2 linked regions of the Homo sapiens genome follow. The protein of the gene in region 2 interacts with the protein of the main gene of each other region in a pairwise test. Each region holds a gene or a part of one and is shown on either strand. Other genes may lie near its edges.

Region 1 (3,829 bases), on a different chromosome or scaffold from region 2:
TCAATATATTTATGATCATACACAACTACATTAGAAGGCACAAATAATTAAATGCTTATGCCTACAATTACTTATAATGAAGAAATTTAGACTTATAAAATGACAATATGTAACTAAGTATTGTTGACACCTTTTATATTTGACATTTTGAAATAAAGGCTAAATATATGTGTGTTCATGTGTACGTATAGAATAAATAGAAATGCATTATCTATAAATGGAGGTTTCTATACATATTTGCTATAGGCAAGACAAATAACACAATTAGCATTGCCATCAATACTATAACTTTTTGAAATGGTTAAAAAAAACTCAGTAAATTTCTTAAGCGAAGTAGAGCCTTTTTCTCAATCAAATCATGGTTGCATTCCTGGAAGATACAGCTAATAGTAAAACCATCCAATAATAGGAAAGTAGATAAATTCAGCAAATTGAAAAAGTCATGCACAAAATGCATTATGTAAGAGATTCCAGACCTGGAAAATCATAAACACATTTTTTCCAGGTATGGTTCTCAATTTTGCAAATCACAGACAATTTTTTGTTATGCACTGATGGACAACTAAATCATAACTTGGCAAACTACTGTCTACCAACTAATTTTGTAAATAAGGTTTTATTGGAATACGTCCATACTCATTCAGTTATATAGTGCCTTTGGCTACTTTCACACTACAGCAGCAGAGCTGAAGAGTTGCAGCAGAGACCATGTGGCCCGCAAAGCCATATGAAATGTCTAGCCCTTTACAGAAAAAGTTGGGTAATCTCTAACCTAGATCCGAGACCTCACTCCTTCAAAAGCTAGAAATCGGCCGGGTGCAGTGGCTCACGCCTGTAATCCCAGCACTTTGGGAGGCCGAAGCGGGCGGATCACGAGGTCAGGAGATCTAGACCATCCTGGCTAACATGGTGAAACCCCGTCTCTACTAAAAATAAAAAAAATTAGCCGGGTGTGGTGGCGAGCGCCTGTAGTCCCAGCTACTCAGGAGGCTGAGGCAGGAGAATGGTGTGAACCCGGGAGGCGGAGCTTGCAGCGAGCCGAGATCGCGCCACTGCACTCCAGCCTGGGCGACAGAGTGAGACTCTGTCTCAAACAAACAAACAAAAAAGCTAGAAGTCTTTACCCTCAACCCACTTACTTTAACATTCAACAGTACCTAGATATATTTCCAAAACACCCTCTAGGGAGAATAACTGCCCCTGCAGAGAATCATTGATACAGGTGCTCAATACATTTTTAACTGAAAATTTGACTTCTTCAACATATAGATTTCTGCAAGAGATACTTGGGCCCATCCTAACAACCTAAAAATAATTCAGATAAGATGAAAAGTCATAATTTCTTTTAAATTCATCAGAGAGCTGAGGGCACAAATTTAAAAGACCTAAACTCCAAAAAAGTGCCAAGCTCTTAATTTTTATTTATTTATTTATTTATTTATTTATTTATTTATTTATTTATTTTTTTTTTTGAGACAGGGTCTCACTCTCAACCAAGCTGGAGTGCAGTGGTATGATCATAGCTTACTGTAACCTTGAACTCCTAGGCTCAAGTAATCCTCCCTCCTCAGCCTTCGAAGTAGCTAGGACTGCAGGCATGTGCCATCATACTCACCTAATTTTTACTTTTTTTGTTGGGATGAGGTTTTGCTACATTGCCCAGGCTGGTCTTGAACTCCTGGCCTCAAGCAATCCTCCTGCCTCAGCCTCCCAAAGTGATGGGATTATAGGTATAAGCCACCACATGTGGCCCTAAGCTCTTCTTAAGAGCCACATATGGATGCTCCCATCTATGGCAGAGCTTAAACTAAATTGTATTAATAATAGTTCAACCATTCCAATAAAAAAATGGTAACAAGACAAGATAAAAATGCATGTTCCAACTACATGCTCTTTACAAGAAGCACATTTTAAATATAAAGATGGGCTAAAAGTAAAATGGGAAGATACACCATCAAACTCTAATCACAAGAAAGCTTGTATGCCTATATTAGTATAAGACAAAATAGACTTCAAGATAAAGAGAAATACTAGCAATAAGGAGGATCAACTCATCAAGAAGACAGCAATCCAAATGTAGAGATTTAACAACAAAGCTTCAAAATGTGTGAAGCAAAAATTGACAGTACTAAAGGAAGAAAGAGACAAACCCACAGAGTTGGGAATTGTAAAATCTTTTGCTCAGTAACTGACAGAACAAGTAGACAATAAAATCGATAACAATATAGAGGATTTACATACCACTATATCAAGTACCTTGGCCAAGATGATAAATATATATTAATAGAATACCACACCCACTTACCAAAAGCCAAGCTGGGCTGAAGAGAACTGAGCTGCAAGGTGTTGGAATAAGTGATTAACACAACCAGCCTTTAATCACTTAGTAGTCACTTAATTTAAGAGGCTAACCCAGAGAAAGCGCTGAGTACTCCACTGTTTCACTCCCCCAACCCCAACCATGAAATAGCACCTGGAGAGGGTCAGAGAGGGTCAGGCAGATCAGTGCAAATGTGGATCAGTGCAGAAGTGAGTCATCTCACTGCTAAGGGAATGCAGAACAAAAAGCTCCTATCATTCATTTTATGGACTGGGACCAGGGGACAAGAAGACAAGGGAAGGGCTAAGAGTGAAAAAGTAGTGAGGCCTGGCTGGGCACGGTGGCTCATGCCTGTAAGCAACCCCAGCACTTGGGGAGGCCGAGGCAGGAAGATTACTTGAGGCCAGAAGTTTGAGACCAGCCTGGGCAACATAGCAAGAATCTGTCTCTACAAAATAATAATAATAATAATAATAATAATAATAATAATAATAATAAAACATCAGCCAGGCATTGTGATGCAAACCTGTAGTCCTAGCTACTTGGGAGGCTGAGGCAGGAGGATTGCTTGAACTGTCCAGGAGTTCAAGGCTGCAATGAGCTATGATCATGCCACTACACTCCAGTCTGGGCGACAGAGCAATATCCTGTCTCCAAAAATATGTTAAAAAAAAAGAAAAGAGAAGAAAGAAAAAAGAAATAAAGAAAAAAATTAAAACTACCGGATACTAAGAGTGGGGAAAGAAAGTGTCTTCAAAGTTTCCCCTCTCCCCTAGATTAGGATGTCCTCTTGGCAGAGGCACCTGATAAAGAGGCCTCCTAATGGAGGTGCCTGGGTTAGGAATGTAAACACGCATAACAGCATGGCTGGTCTGGGAGGCCTGAGTCCTGCACTGCAACTCCCTTTAGAGACTGTAATGCACTAGAAGTGCACCAAGTCTGCTGCGGGGAGGCCACCTTTCCCCTGTGTGGCCTGCCAGGAATGACCTGGTGGAGCCTGAGAACCCACACATAGGATTTTAGCAAGAGTCAGACTCTTCATTAACAACTGCGTATGGAAAGGTCATCAAAATAAACCAGATGCTGGGTCATAAAACAAGTAACAGTAAATATTTTAAAAACTGAATTATACAGAGAATATACTGTGGTCAGTGTCCACATATTATTAAATTACAAACTAGTAACAAGAATCTCCAAATATTTGGAAATTAAACATACTTCTAAATAACCCATGCAAAAAGACATTGAAAAATATGCCGAACTGAGTGACAATGGAAACACACTTATCAGATTCTGTGAGCTGCAACAAAAGCAGTATTTAGAGGAAAATTAATAGTGTTAAATGCTTATGTTAGAAAAATGATTTAGGCTCCCACCTTAGGAAGCTGGAAAAAGAAGAGCAAGTGAAGCTGAAAGTAAGAAGAAAAGAAAGAATAAAAATAAGCACAAAATCCACAATATAAAGTAGATTACAATAGAGAATATCAACAAACTCAAAAATCAATTCTT
Region 2 (3,242 bases):
AAGAGGAATTCTAAAAATAGCAAACGTACTCTAAAGCAGTTAGTTGAAGGGGCAGGTTGTGGGTAAAAACCTTTTTCAGCTAGCATGGCTTGCCATTCAAGGCTATTCTGCTCTAAGAGACAGTGGAGAAAAAAACAGATGGACAAATGATCTGATCAAGCTGAGTTCAGTGCCATTGTTTGACCACCACGCCTCCTTATGATAGTAGGCCTCTGCAATCACACTTGTTTATGCATCTCAATAATTAATTAGTCTGTGATTAAAAATGAAATCTGTTAAGAAGTCTAAAACTATTCACTAAACATTAGACTAGCCTTATCTCGGGGTCGTAACTAGATACTTCAAGAAATCTGTAACATCTGTAATATGAAAATATCTGAGATTTCTATTGACAAAATCATGGATACTGCTAATAAAATGCTGCCCAAATTCATAATTGAAATAAATACTAAATTGCAGTTAGAAATTATTAGTGCAAATAAAGATGTAATTTTTCCCCACCCAAGTTCCTGGATTCCCTAACTCTGCTCACTGAAGCACATATTTTACAATTCATGAATACAGACTGTATTTTTTCAAAGAGAATTTTAATCTGAAAAATTAGCAGAGATTCTGCCTTCACAATTAGAGTTTAACATGAGTCTTCCAGTGTTTTAAAAAGAACTGTAATATACATAAAGCAAAATATTTTGGCATCACCTAGTGAAAACAGACGATGTGGTATTTTTTCAGCCATCTCATATAGTTAGGCCCCGAGTTACAATTTGAGATAAGTTGATTCCTAAACAGAATGTGCTTTACAGAATGTGACCAATTTTATTACTCCCAAGGACCTTGTTTCAGATTATCTTAAAACCAGAGTTCACTGATCTCACATTTTAAAAAGAAAAAAGTTTGTTAACTGTTTTAATCAATATGAGTAGTAACAAACATCCCTAATTGGATTCTAGAGAGGAAGCAGGGAAGGCCAGGTGCGGTGGCTCATGCCTGTAATCCCAGCACTTTGGGAGGCCAAGGCGGGTGGATCACGAGGTCAGGAGTTCAAGACCAGCCTAGCCAACATAGTGAAACCCCCGTCTCTACTAAAAATACAAAAAATTAGCCAGGCATGGTGGCAGGTGCCTGTAATCCCAACTACTTGGGAGGCTGAGGCAGAGAATTGCTTGAACCCGGGAGGCAGAGGATGCAGTGAGCTGAGATCGCACCACTGCACTCCAGCCTGGGCAACAGAGCGAGACTCCATCTCAAAAAAAAAAAAAAAAAAAGGAAGCAGGGAACAACTGAGCCAAAACAAAATTATCCCCTAAGGACTTGACTTTGGACTTCCACATAAATGTGACCTTGTAGAACTAGATACATATTTATCAGGTAAATAAATATGTAATTATTTAGTAATTAGATCAAGATACATGAGCAGTCTTTAGCATTAATAATTACATTATTTTTAGGAACTCTTATCAAATATGGTCCTGGATCTCTTAATTTCCCATATGCAGTGATTTTAGTTAAAATTCCAAAGGATTTCTTTTTCCTATAATATCTCCATTTCTGAGTATCATCATACCAAAACAATTAGTATTCTCTTATTCAAGGCTTTAGATGTTCGATTATTCCCTACCCTTCCATCCTCACACACACAATAATTGCCCAGATAAATAATAATAAACTGTGGTTTCCAAGTATCTCACTGGGATTTTTATTCTTTATACCTTGCAGGACTAGTCCAAGATTTGAATACCCTGAACTTATTTGGCAAGAGCGATGAGTACTCTTAAAATTACTATCTGGAAATTATATTATTTAGAATCTGCCAATTACCTAGATCCCCCCTCAACAATTGTTTCACCAAGGAACTTCCTGAAAGCACATGTATAAGTATCATAACTATTAGAAAATGTTTCAAATGCTATTATATTTGATAGAACCATTCAGTTAACAAAATCCTAAATCATAAACTGGCTTTTAGAATTACACACTTAAAAAAACAGTAAACTACAAGAGTTGTTTTGTACACTTCATTCTCTTCGAATGCCTTTGTGGCTTACAGTGATAATCACATATATTCGTTCCTTGCAACCTTTTTCATTTTGATCTTCGTTTGTAACGGATAACTGGGTTTTCAGGGGTGTGAATCATAGTTGTATAATTCACAGTGGGAAAGTATCCATCAATGAGATCAAATTCATATAAACGAAGCATAGTGGACCAAATTGTCTTAATTTGAACATAGGCAAAATTTTCCCCAATACAACGATGACGCCCTAAAAAAAAGAAAAAGTTATAAGAATCAGTTTAAATTCTTTCTCATCCTTTTTAGCCTGGGGTGATATTATCTACATTTTAGATGAACAGCAAATGTACAGATAATATAATAAAAAGATGACATTCTTTTCACATAAAACAACATGAATTATTAAAAATTCCAGGAGATTTTCAATACCACATTTTAGGAAAACAGTACTTGACTGATCACATAACTTTTCCAATTACTTTTTCTGAAAATATATATCTGGGTTAAATATATGGAAAGTTTGAATCATAAGATGGTAATCTAGTTTGGGAATATAGTAGAATATTCTGTTTGTCCCAAGAAAGCCCTAGTTAAAAGTCAATATGAAAACCTTCCAATCAAACCTCAAATGTCATTATAAATGTATGGAAGAAAATGAGATTTAATGAACCCAAAATAATATACTAAAAAGTCACACCCATGTAGAAACTGACAAGCTGATTCTAAAATGCATATAAAAATGCAAAGGACCTAGGATATCCAAAGCAATCTTGGAAAAAGAACTGAGTTGGAGGACATAAAACTGATTTCAAATCTGACTTCAAGACTAAAGATAAAACAGAGTGGTACTAGGTAAGGATCAACAAATAGATCAATGGAACAGAGCAGAGAGCCCAGAACAGAATATTTTTATGGTTATTTGATTATCAGTACAGACACCAAAGCAAGCCAATGAGGAAAAGCAAGTCTTTTCAACATAAGGTCCAGGAATAACTAGATATTACATGGGGGAAAAATGAAATTCAACTCCTATGTCACACCATAATCAAATACTAATTCAAGAAGGGTCACAAACCATGATGCTAACAGCATAAATTTCAGTAGAGAAGAACAGGAGAATATCTTCATGACTCAGGGGCTAAGCAAAAATTTTAAGACAGGGCCAGAAAGCAATAACCATTTAAAAGATTGATACATTGGACTAAACTAAAGGTTATTCATTTGTCAAAAC

Evidence for each region.
Region 1: the proteins of CYP51A1 (region 2) and ZNF420 interact in a two-hybrid assay, tested with the Homo sapiens proteins (one large-scale study listed by BioGRID and IntAct).

What each region holds. Positions count from the first base shown.
Region 1 is NC_000019.10:37,084,926-37,088,754, reverse strand, and holds part of ZNF420 (zinc finger protein 420), read right to left. Parts: intron 3,730-3,829; exon of another isoform or gene 3,697-3,729; intron 1-3,696. UniProt on the Homo sapiens protein: May be involved in transcriptional regulation.
Region 2 is NC_000007.14:92,111,583-92,114,824, forward strand, and holds the end of CYP51A1 (lanosterol 14-alpha demethylase), read right to left. Parts: intron 2,262-3,242; coding exon 2,083-2,261; 3' UTR 571-2,082; downstream 1-570. UniProt on the Homo sapiens protein: Sterol 14alpha-demethylase that plays a critical role in the cholesterol biosynthesis pathway, being cholesterol the major sterol component in mammalian membranes as well as a precursor for bile acid and steroid hormone synthesis.